3 separate regions of the Homo sapiens genome follow, and regions 1 and 3 are each reported to be linked to region 2. The links are microRNA targets in miRTarBase. Many come from high-throughput screens and were not tested one by one. Region 2 holds a microRNA gene; each other region holds the end of a gene's coding sequence.

Region 1 (3,266 bases), not on the chromosome of region 2:
AATTACATTCTGATTCTCCTCCAGATTCTTCTGAGGAACTGATTGTAATCTCATAGGTGCAAAAAGAATAAACCAATTTTAAACTGATATAAAGTGTATTTTTAAACATTTATTTATATATTGGTCCTACTGTTTCAAAATATTTTCACCCTTCTGGTCCATGAATAAAAATCCTTATTTGAATGCAAAATATTAATGTATTCTTGCTGAGAAGCCATCATGGGAAGTTACAGAAGTGACAAATAAATTAATTGAGCATGATAGAATTCTAATGAAGTAAATAATTCTTGAAAGTGCTCTATGAAGTAGACAGTTGTGTGTTTTTGGTATTCAACCCAAAATAATTCATATTTTGCTATTTTTAATGCATTTCTGATTTCCATGCATTTTTAATTCATTTTTATTTCTTTGTAGAGAAAATAACCAGAACATTACAAATAATACTGGAAGTTGTACCAGAAGAAGATAAGTTATGAACTAATGGACTTGAGATCTTGGCAATCTGCCCAAGGGGAGACACAAAATAGGGATTTTTACTTCATTTTCTGAAAGTCTAGAGAATTACAACTTTGGTGATAAACAAAAGGAGTCAGTTATTTTTATTCATATATTTTAGCATATTCGAACTAATTTCTAAGAAATTTAGTTATAACTCTATGTAGTTATAGAAAGTGAATATGCAGTTATTCTATGAGTCGCACAATTCTTGAGTCTCTGATACCTACCTATTGGGGTTAGGAGAAAAGACTAGACAATTACTATGTGGTCATTCTCTACAACATATGTTAGCACGGCAAAGAACCTTCAAATTGAAGACTGAGATTTTTCTGTATATATGGGTTTTGTAAAGATGGTTTTACACACTATAGATGTCTATACTGTGAAAAGTGTTTTCAATTCTGAAAAAAAGCATACATCATGATTATGGCAAAGAGGAGAGAAAGAAATTTATTTTACATTGACATTGCATTGCTTCCCCTTAGATACCAATTTAGATAACAAACACTCATGCTTTAATGGATTATACCCAGAGCACTTTGAACAAAGGTCAGTGGGGATTGTTGAATACATTAAAGAAGAGTTTCTAGGGGCTACTGTTTATGAGACACATCCAGGAGTTATGTTTAAGTAAAAATCCTTGAGAATTTATTATGTCAGATGTTTTTTCATTCATTATCAGGAAGTTTTAGTTATCTGTCATTTTTTTTTTTCACATCAGTTTGATCAGGAAAGTGTATAACACATCTTAGAGCAAGAGTTAGTTTGGTATTAAATCCTCATTAGAACAACCACCTGTTTCACTAATAACTTACCCCTGATGAGTCTATCTAAACATATGCATTTTAAGCCTTCAAATTACATTATCAACATGAGAGAAATCACCAACAAAGAAGATGTTCAAAATAATAGTCCCATATCTGTAATCATATCTACATGCAATGTTAGTAATTCTGAAGTTTTTTAAATTTATGGCTATTTTTACACGATGATGAATTTTGACAGTTTGTGCATTTTCTTTATACATTTTATATTCTTCTGTTAAAATATCTCTTCAGATGAAACTGTCCAGATTAATTAGGAAAAGGCATATATTAACATAAAAATTGCAAAAGAAATGTCGCTGTAAATAAGATTTACAACTGATGTTTCTAGAAAATTTCCACTTCTATATCTAGGCTTTGTCAGTAATTTCCACACCTTAATTATCATTCAACTTGCAAAAGAGACAACTGATAAGAAGAAAATTGAAATGAGAATCTGTGGATAAGTGTTTGTGTTCAGAAGATGTTGTTTTGCCAGTATTAGAAAATACTGTGAGCCGGGCATGGTGGCTTACATCTGTAATCCCAGCACTTTGGGAGGCTGAGGGGGTGGATCACCTGAGGTCGGGAGTTCTAGACCAGCCTGACCAACATGGAGAAACCCCATCTCTACTAAAAATACAAAATTAGCTGGGCATGGTGGCACATGCTGGTAATCTCAGCTATTGAGGAGGCTGAGGCAGGAGAATTGCTTGAACCCGGGAGGCGGAGGTTGCAGTGAGCCAAGATTGCACCACTGTACTCCAGCCTGGGTGACAAAGTCAGACTCCATCTCCAAAAAAAAAAGATTATATATATATATATATGTGTGTGTATGTGTGTGTGTGTGTGTGTGTGTATATATATATATATATATATACACACACACACACACACTTTTTATATATATATATATATATATATAGTGGAACTTACAAATGAGAGTAATATAATGATGAAATTTTGAACTGTTATTTATAAACATCTAAGGTAAAATGGTTAGTCATGGCCAGAGTATGTTTCATCCTTTAATTTTTGTCCATTTGAAAATAAGGATTTTTGAAAGAATTATACCAATTAAAATTATTAAAGGCAAACATAGAATTCATAAAAAATTGTCCAAAGTAGAAATGATGACCTATAATTTGGAGCATTTCCAATTCAGTAATTTCAATTTTGCTCTTGAAAACATTTAATATATATCCAAGACTGACATTTCTTTAGCTGAACCTAACGTTTGGGTCTCTGAGTGAATTTATAATAACTCCTTCCTTCCTTAGCATAGGGTTTTCAAAATTTGATTTATAATTCCTATTTCCAGTAAATATTGTTCATTTGTCCACATCTCTCCCTATGATATGTTGCTGGAGGTAAGAATTTCTTTCATATTCCTATTTTTTTTTTCCCCATAGACTAGGCTCATAGAATTTAAACAAGCAAATTTTCCTGAGCTTTTTCTTGCCAAATGAAAGAAGACTGGTAAATTCTCATAGAGAGGTTTGTGTAGTTCTTGGCTCTTCCTGGGGTTAATGTGCTTATATTCACAGTGGCAAATTGGTCTCAGACTTTAATTTATTTATTTTTGATTTGAATTTCTCTTTAAAAGTATCAATTTAAAAGGTAACTAGAATTATTCTTTCTCATTTTCAAAAGTGATTTTTGCATTATTAAATTTCCCTGCCATTGTAATGCCATTTCACGCAGAAAAAAAGTCAGCCAGTAATTAAGAAAAAAAGTGATGGAGATTAAGTAGTATTTTGGCTTATTTTTAGGACTCATCATGAGAAGACACAGTTCCTTTAATCAGGAAATTAATATCCATAATTTTCACTCAAAATTGCAGTATGTAAAGCAGATTCTCAAAAACTCTCCTGAACACTTATTTATATATATGTTTTTATATAAGTAAAATTTTTCTCATATTTTTATACGATATGCACACACACACATACATGCACATACTAC
Region 2 (3,266 bases):
TTGTGGTGACCCTCAAATATTTATGCTAAAACTTAACTTTCAGTATGGAAACAGAAACATGGGTTCAATTTAAAATCCATGACTGGATCATGAGCAGGGCAAAGTGAGAGGCATTGTGAGATAGGGCCAAATGCTTCGAGAATTTACTCCATACAGACTGTGTTCAGGAACCCAGCACTTCCTCTGTGACTCAATAACTGGCACATATGGTTGCCAGGGACTACCAACAGCTGATTTCAATAAAAGTTACCCAATTACACCTTGAAGACCTGTTGTTTCTGGAGGGAGTTGGAGGAATTAAGGAATGTGGACTGAGTTTTTAAAATATATCTTACAGAAGTCAGAGGAAGATATAGAAGGACAGGAATATACTCAAGATACAATATTTTCTTCTACTGTACTTTTTGTTACATGGAACAGAATTTTAGCATTGGATCCCTTCAGCTGTGACAAAGGAGAAGGTCCATGGTTATAAAGTTTTCCATTAGACTCTCCTCACACACAGGAAATGAACTTCCATAAATTTAATGATATGACTCTTAGGGTTTTATTTCTCCCATTTTATAACCCTCTTTAGGATAGAAACACATTTCTTGCACTATAAAAATTTTAGTCAGCAAATTTTTCATATTCTCACTGGGATTTCATAATCAGTCTGTACACCCTTCCTATGCAATAACTTTTGATCAGTATAGTGAAATATAATGGTATTATGTAATTTTAAGATGTACATCTTAAAGACAAAAAAATATCCCTTTATTTAATTCAAGATAAATAAATCAGTGAGGAAAATGTATGGTGAAAAGTTTGGGCATATATTAGTTATCTTTCAATATATTTTTCATTTTTTTCTTTTTATTTCCTTCAACCATATGATGCAATCAACGGATATTTGTTGGGTGCTTTGATGTTTTCAGATCTATGCTATGCACTACAAGGGTCTCAAAAAGGAATGAAGAACAAAGTCCCTGCTCTCAAGAATGTAGAGTTTTCCATACAAGGTTCTAAAAACCATTAAGGTCACTTAAGATATCAGTCAGAAGGTGAATAGGATGATGTTCCTGGATGCAAATTTTAGAAATGTGGCATACTAAAATCTTCCCCTGGAACTTCACCATTCACACCTAAGAAGTTAAAGATGTCTCAGTAGGTTCTCACTATGTTGTCTAGGCAGGTCTCAAACTTCTGGCCTCAAGAGATCCCTATACCTTGGCCTCCCAACGTGTGGAGGTTACAGGCATAAGCCACTGCACCTGACCCATTTTCTCCTTCTGAAAACTCTTTTGGATTTTAGGATACCATGTTCTTTGGATTCTTCCCTGCTTACTCTGACCTTCCTTCTTGACCCTCACTGTCTCTTCCTCATTCGCAGGGCCACTTCTCCTTAGCGACCCCAACACAACCAAGTCTCAAAATTGGACATCTGATATATGTGACAAAGATATGTTTTCATTTATATAAAATGTGAATAGAAACTTACATACACACACACAAACATACAAACACACACACACTCACAGTGTCTCAGAAGTTCTGCAACAAAGAAATACAGTTATTGTCATTGAACCCAGAACTCCCTAAGTGTTTTTGACAGAGCAACTTTTTCTTGAGACAGATCTATAAAAATCTCTTGGGATAGTGGTGTTCTATGGAAAACAGTCTGGGGAATACTGAATTAGAGAACCGTGTGAGACATTTTATTATTAACATGCAAACTCAAAGTACTGAAAGTGTAGAGAAGAGAAATATCATTATGATCTAGACGGGTGAAGAAAAGAATCTCAAAGGAGGATAGACTTTTAAAGAAATAAGTGAAAAAAAAAACAGAACATGTGATGAGGAGGGGGAAATTCAGATTATATCTCCCAAATTGATGATATTGATTATTTGAAAGAGGAAGGCAAAGGTGTAGACAATGATTATTAGGGACTTTGACTTTCTAAGTTATACATTTCTATATTGTTTATGTACTTGTTTTTACAAAGTTTTACAAATGTTTTATGAAGTGGCTTATTCTTATAATCCAGAGATATTCTCCTAAAACTAACTAAAGTTTATTTATCAGATTAACTAATGATGTGTATAGCTCTTACTTCCACAATTATCCATATATACATATATGCAATATTTACAAACATAGAGATGTACAAATATAATATCTCGGCCAAAAATAATTGAAGCATCAAAGTCAACCTACATTGTAATCTTGGGCAGCACCTGTTGTTTATTCATCTCTCAAGTGTGGCTGACTTCAGGGATGAGAATAAACAATGTGATCTCTTACTAAGCTTCCCTTTGGACTAGTCATCCAATTGGTATGTGATGACTTTATACCTGAAACTAAGGAGTTGAGGAATAAGCTGAAAATAGCCAACTTGGGTTTCCTAAGTACAGTTTGGCTTCTGTAAGAACTGTTTGGTTGCTCCTCAATTTCAGTGTATTCATTTTTTAAAGTATATTTATTTTAAAAGTGGCAAATTCAGGTATTACTTAATAATTAAGAAGCATTTATGCCCAAACACAATATATGTTTACAACCAAATTTGAAAGTAATTGAACTGATAACCCTTTAGACAAAGGAGATGTGTTATAATAAATATTATTGTCAGCTTTCCTTCATCTTAAGATTTTTTGAATCTTGGAAGAAGATATGCATGAACTTTGTGTTGGGTATTTATAAATGTATACACATATATACATAGCAAAATGTAAGCACAATACAGGTATAACATGTAAGGTTAGACCATGTAAACTTGCTGAAATTCAGTTGTTTCTGACCTACAATAATGGCAATTTCATATGGTTGAACCTAATGGTTTGTCTCAGTCATTAGTTAGTGGTGCCTCCTCCCCTAGGTAGAGTTTTCCAATTGTGTTGGGATGGTATTTTCACTCTTGTAACATTCCCAACTTGTATCAGAATTCCCTTCATCTTCCCTCCTCTACTTTTATATTATTCTATTCCGTCATTTTTCTCCTAGATACGACTGGACAGATTGTTTACTTATAGCAGTCCCTATATGTTAATCCATTTCTTTGGTCAACAAATTCTCAAACATCAGACCTTAAAGGTCAAAGAAAATCCCTGTGTTGAATTCAGTACCATGTATACAGAATTAGTCAACTATTGCGGCTCTTTCCCTATTATCTATCCCTATTTCTGTTACTGTTGATGTTGTCTGGGAGTATCTAAACACTCCCAGGAATTCAGGTACTTAAGAGGACTGTCTGGATAACAACGTCTGGTTATCTGATGTCAACTTCTGA
Region 3 (3,266 bases), not on the chromosome of region 2:
AATCCTGCTGTCAAGTGACTTCCAATGAAGTTCTGGAACTAATATAAAGCAGACTGCACTAGATCTATAAAACCGTAGTACCTATTTCCAACTTGCCCAAGGCCATGAAGACACTAAAACTCCAGCCTCAAGGTATGACTTAATGCCACAATATTAGTTTAGAAGAATAGTTGGGAAGTAAGAGAGTAGCCAGAAATGAGTGGAGTTTTGAAGACTGAGGTTTGGCTACTGTGATAATGAGAAAGGACCACTCACTCCAGGTGAAAGCCTAGAAAAGTTCTAGTAGATATATTAAAGGAATAGTGGGCATACAGCAGGGAACAGGAAAAAGAAAGGTAGGAAAATAATACTGCAACCAGACTGAAAAGGGCTTCTTAATACCATGTCTATGATTTATTTGGGTCCACAATGGTGAAAAATGGCTTATTTTCTCTTGGATCTCTATTAATGTAAAAGTTTAAGATTACTAGGATTTTTTGTTGTTTGTTTAGGGACTACAGAAAGTCAGGAAACAAAAATTTAAATTACTACTATATTGTCTGTCCATCCAATCTTTCTGAAAGATCTCATTATCCTTTAAATACGGATAGTGACGTTATTTACTCATATAATTCTAACTACTGCTGAGTATTATACAGATCAAGTGGTAATAACAAGCTCCAGTTTCTTAGAAGGTGATACTTCCTTTACAAGTTAAACATGGCATATGGCAGTAATCCTGGACCTTCAGTGAAGATTTGTTTGTCATAATACTGCTAAGGATACTTCTGGTTTGTTTTTGAGACAAGGTCTCGCTCTATTGCCTAGACTGGAGTGCAGTGGTGCAATGCCAGCTCACTGCAGCCTCGACCTCTCAGGCTCAAGCCATCTTCCCACCTCAGCCTCTCAAGTAGTTGGGATTATAGGCATGCACCATATGACTGCTAATTTTTTTTTTTTTTTTTGGAGAGACAGGGACTTTCTGTGTTGCCCAGGCTGGTCTTGAACTCCTGGGCTCAAACGATCCTCCTGTCTTGTCCTCCCAAAATGTTGAGATTACAGGCATAAGCCACCATGCCCAGCTGCTAAGGATACTTGAGGTGGATAAGGTTTTTGCAGAAGTTGATCTTATAATAGCAGGAATTGGTAGATGAGACAATTCAGCTAGGACTATACACCGCTACCTTCCCCACTAAAACCAGGACAAACAGAAAACAAGCTTATCTCCTGAGAGAGAGAGAGAGAGAGAGAGAGAATTTTAAATAACTCTTTACAACGTAAAAACCATTTTTAGCTCAAAGACTACAAAAACAGGCTATGGGCCTGATTTGACCCACACATTATAGTTTCCTATCTCTGGTACAGACAACAAATTGGAATTAAGTGAGACAACATATGGGACTTTATTAAATAAGGTGAATTTGGGACAAATGAAAGGTGAGATGAAGGCAAACTACTGTCAAGGGATGATCTGAGCCTGAACAACTCAGTGAATGTGAAGAGAAAACAAGATTACATGTGAATATAGATGTTAACTGGAAAAGCAAGGAGAAAAAAAGGGAGCACAAGGAAGAAAAAAAAATCAAAATTTGTGAGCCATCTCAAGCCATCAAAAAAACTTCATTCTATTGTAGGAGGGAAGCTGGAAACAATGGCAGAGTAATTTTGTGTTAAGAATTAAAGTACTAGCTCCAGTTAGGCATATAAATGACAATTAGAAGGGACAGAAGTTATGGTTATGTCAGCAGCCTCCAGTGAGCTAGGATATAAACTAAGTCTTTTCAAGCTGAACAAATATATACACATTCAACCCATTTAAGTGAAGAGACACATTTAAGTCCACAAAAGCAAACTTAACTACCTACTATATAACTTACTTTTTATTGAAAGTATCTTGCATTCATGATGGATGCTTTCTGGGTTTTACCACATATTTTAATGTTAAAAGTTAAATTATTCTTTACATGCAAGTAGTGTGAATAATTTTCTCCACATGGGAACACTAATTATAAAAAGATGACATCCCACATGGGTTAAGTGTCTTTTTAATTGAAAAGCTAACTGTCCAGTTACATTTCTCCCAAAAAACCACAAACTGGGTAGTAACTGAGTCTCTAGGCAATATATTTAAAACTAAGAGGATTAAAAATAAAGAAAAAGAAAACAAGTCCTCAGATGCAATGAAGGGAGCCCTGCTACATACAGGCTAATCAATACAGTGGTACTCCTTGACTGCAGGAGGCTGGAAGACATCCTAGTAGCTCCACTCAGAACATTTACTTCAAGAAGCCTTTTTCCAGTTTCCAACTCATGAATAAAGATAATATTTTGTTAATTCTATTCCAGAAAACTTTTTTGCAAGTTGTTTTATTTACAATGCCAACTTTTAAAAGGTCACTAAAGTTAACTGGACAATAAACTAGGCAGACATTGCTTTACAAAAAAGAGGGAAAGCCCAAAATGCCACTTATAGAGAACCCACAGTTCAGTTTTATTCAGAGCAAAGAAAAAAGAAACTTTCCATCATACTAGAAGAAACTTGGCCGTAAGGTTTGGGATCTGTGCTCAAACTACACATGCAATGAGGACAATATTCTGCTAATACAATTGACTTGCTGCTGCATTTGTCTACTGTTTGTCTAATATTAACAATTATAAACAGAGCAGTGCAACTAGTATTTGGAACAATCCTTACAGTGTTACAGTGTCAGGCACAACATTTCACTTCTCTTCACACCACTGGTTCTCTTTGCGTACCTAAAAGAGATGGATATAGGGAAGTACCTTAACTTGAGTAGTCTTTCCTAAGACTTATAAATACTACCTACTGATTCATCGATAGCCAGTGAGTTGAGTCAGAAGAACAGATGGAAAATTAGAACAACACCAGGTTAAGACTATATTTCCGGATTTCCTTTCTTTGCCTCCCATGGTTTTTATTCTGCCCTGCTGAAATTATGAACAAAGCAAAGGCAATGGGCAATTTACTAAAGTTGACAGAGCAAATTCAGTTAATTCATTCACATTATTTCAGTCTGTAGTCATGTCAACAAAATCATTCTGATCTATTCTTTCATTTCCTCCCCTCATTAAGTTGCTCTAAAGTACCCTAGTATATACTTCTCTCTAGGGCCTGCTTTTCTGATGTCAGATATGTATGGTCTATACAGAAAGTTGCAGGTGCCAAAACTAGTAACTGTTAATACATTAACAAGAGCTCTTCTCATTGAAAACTAATTGTTCTTATGCTTAAAATGCAGTATCATCTAAGTGTTCAGATTCATAAA

Evidence for each region. The annotated mature microRNA hsa-miR-4282 reads UAAAAUUUGCAUCCAGGA and lies in region 2 at 1,060-1,077, opposite strand. An mRNA with a match to its seed (bases 2 to 7 or 8) in the 3' UTR can be bound and repressed. Matches are read on the target gene's strand: a 7mer-m8 pairs with bases 2 to 8, a 7mer-A1 pairs with bases 2 to 7 and ends in A, and an 8mer does both.
Region 1: the mRNA of SLC7A11 is a reported target of hsa-miR-4282. Seed matches in the 3' UTR shown: 7mer-m8 at 2,260-2,266, 7mer-m8 at 2,740-2,746 and 7mer-m8 at 3,210-3,216.
Region 3: the mRNA of SKP1 is a reported target of hsa-miR-4282. Seed matches in the 3' UTR shown: 7mer-m8 at 1,564-1,570 and 7mer-m8 at 515-521.

The regions. Positions count from the first base shown.
Region 1 is chr4:138,169,166-138,172,431 of GRCh38, reverse strand. It overlaps SLC7A11 (solute carrier family 7 member 11), which reads left to right. Exons shown (of 12, transcript NM_014331.4): 12 at 415-3,266. The coding sequence ends at 476. It overlaps SLC7A11-AS1 (SLC7A11 antisense RNA 1), which reads right to left. Exons shown (of 7, transcript NR_038380.1): 5 at 726-899. Among named protein-coding and RNA genes, the nearest start is that of LINC00616, 40 kb to the right of the region's middle.
Region 2 is chr6:72,966,638-72,969,903 of GRCh38, forward strand. MIR4282 (microRNA 4282) reads right to left here and starts at 1,116; the gene lies at 1,050-1,116. All of the region lies in intron 1 of KCNQ5 (potassium voltage-gated channel subfamily Q member 5), which reads left to right. All of the region lies in intron 3 of LOC105377855 (a long non-coding RNA gene), which reads right to left.
Region 3 is chr5:134,155,033-134,158,298 of GRCh38, forward strand. SKP1 (S-phase kinase associated protein 1) reads right to left here. Exons shown (of 6, transcript NM_170679.3): 6 at 1-2,736. The coding sequence ends at 2,701. Among named protein-coding and RNA genes, the nearest start is that of SKP1, 20 kb to the right of the region's middle.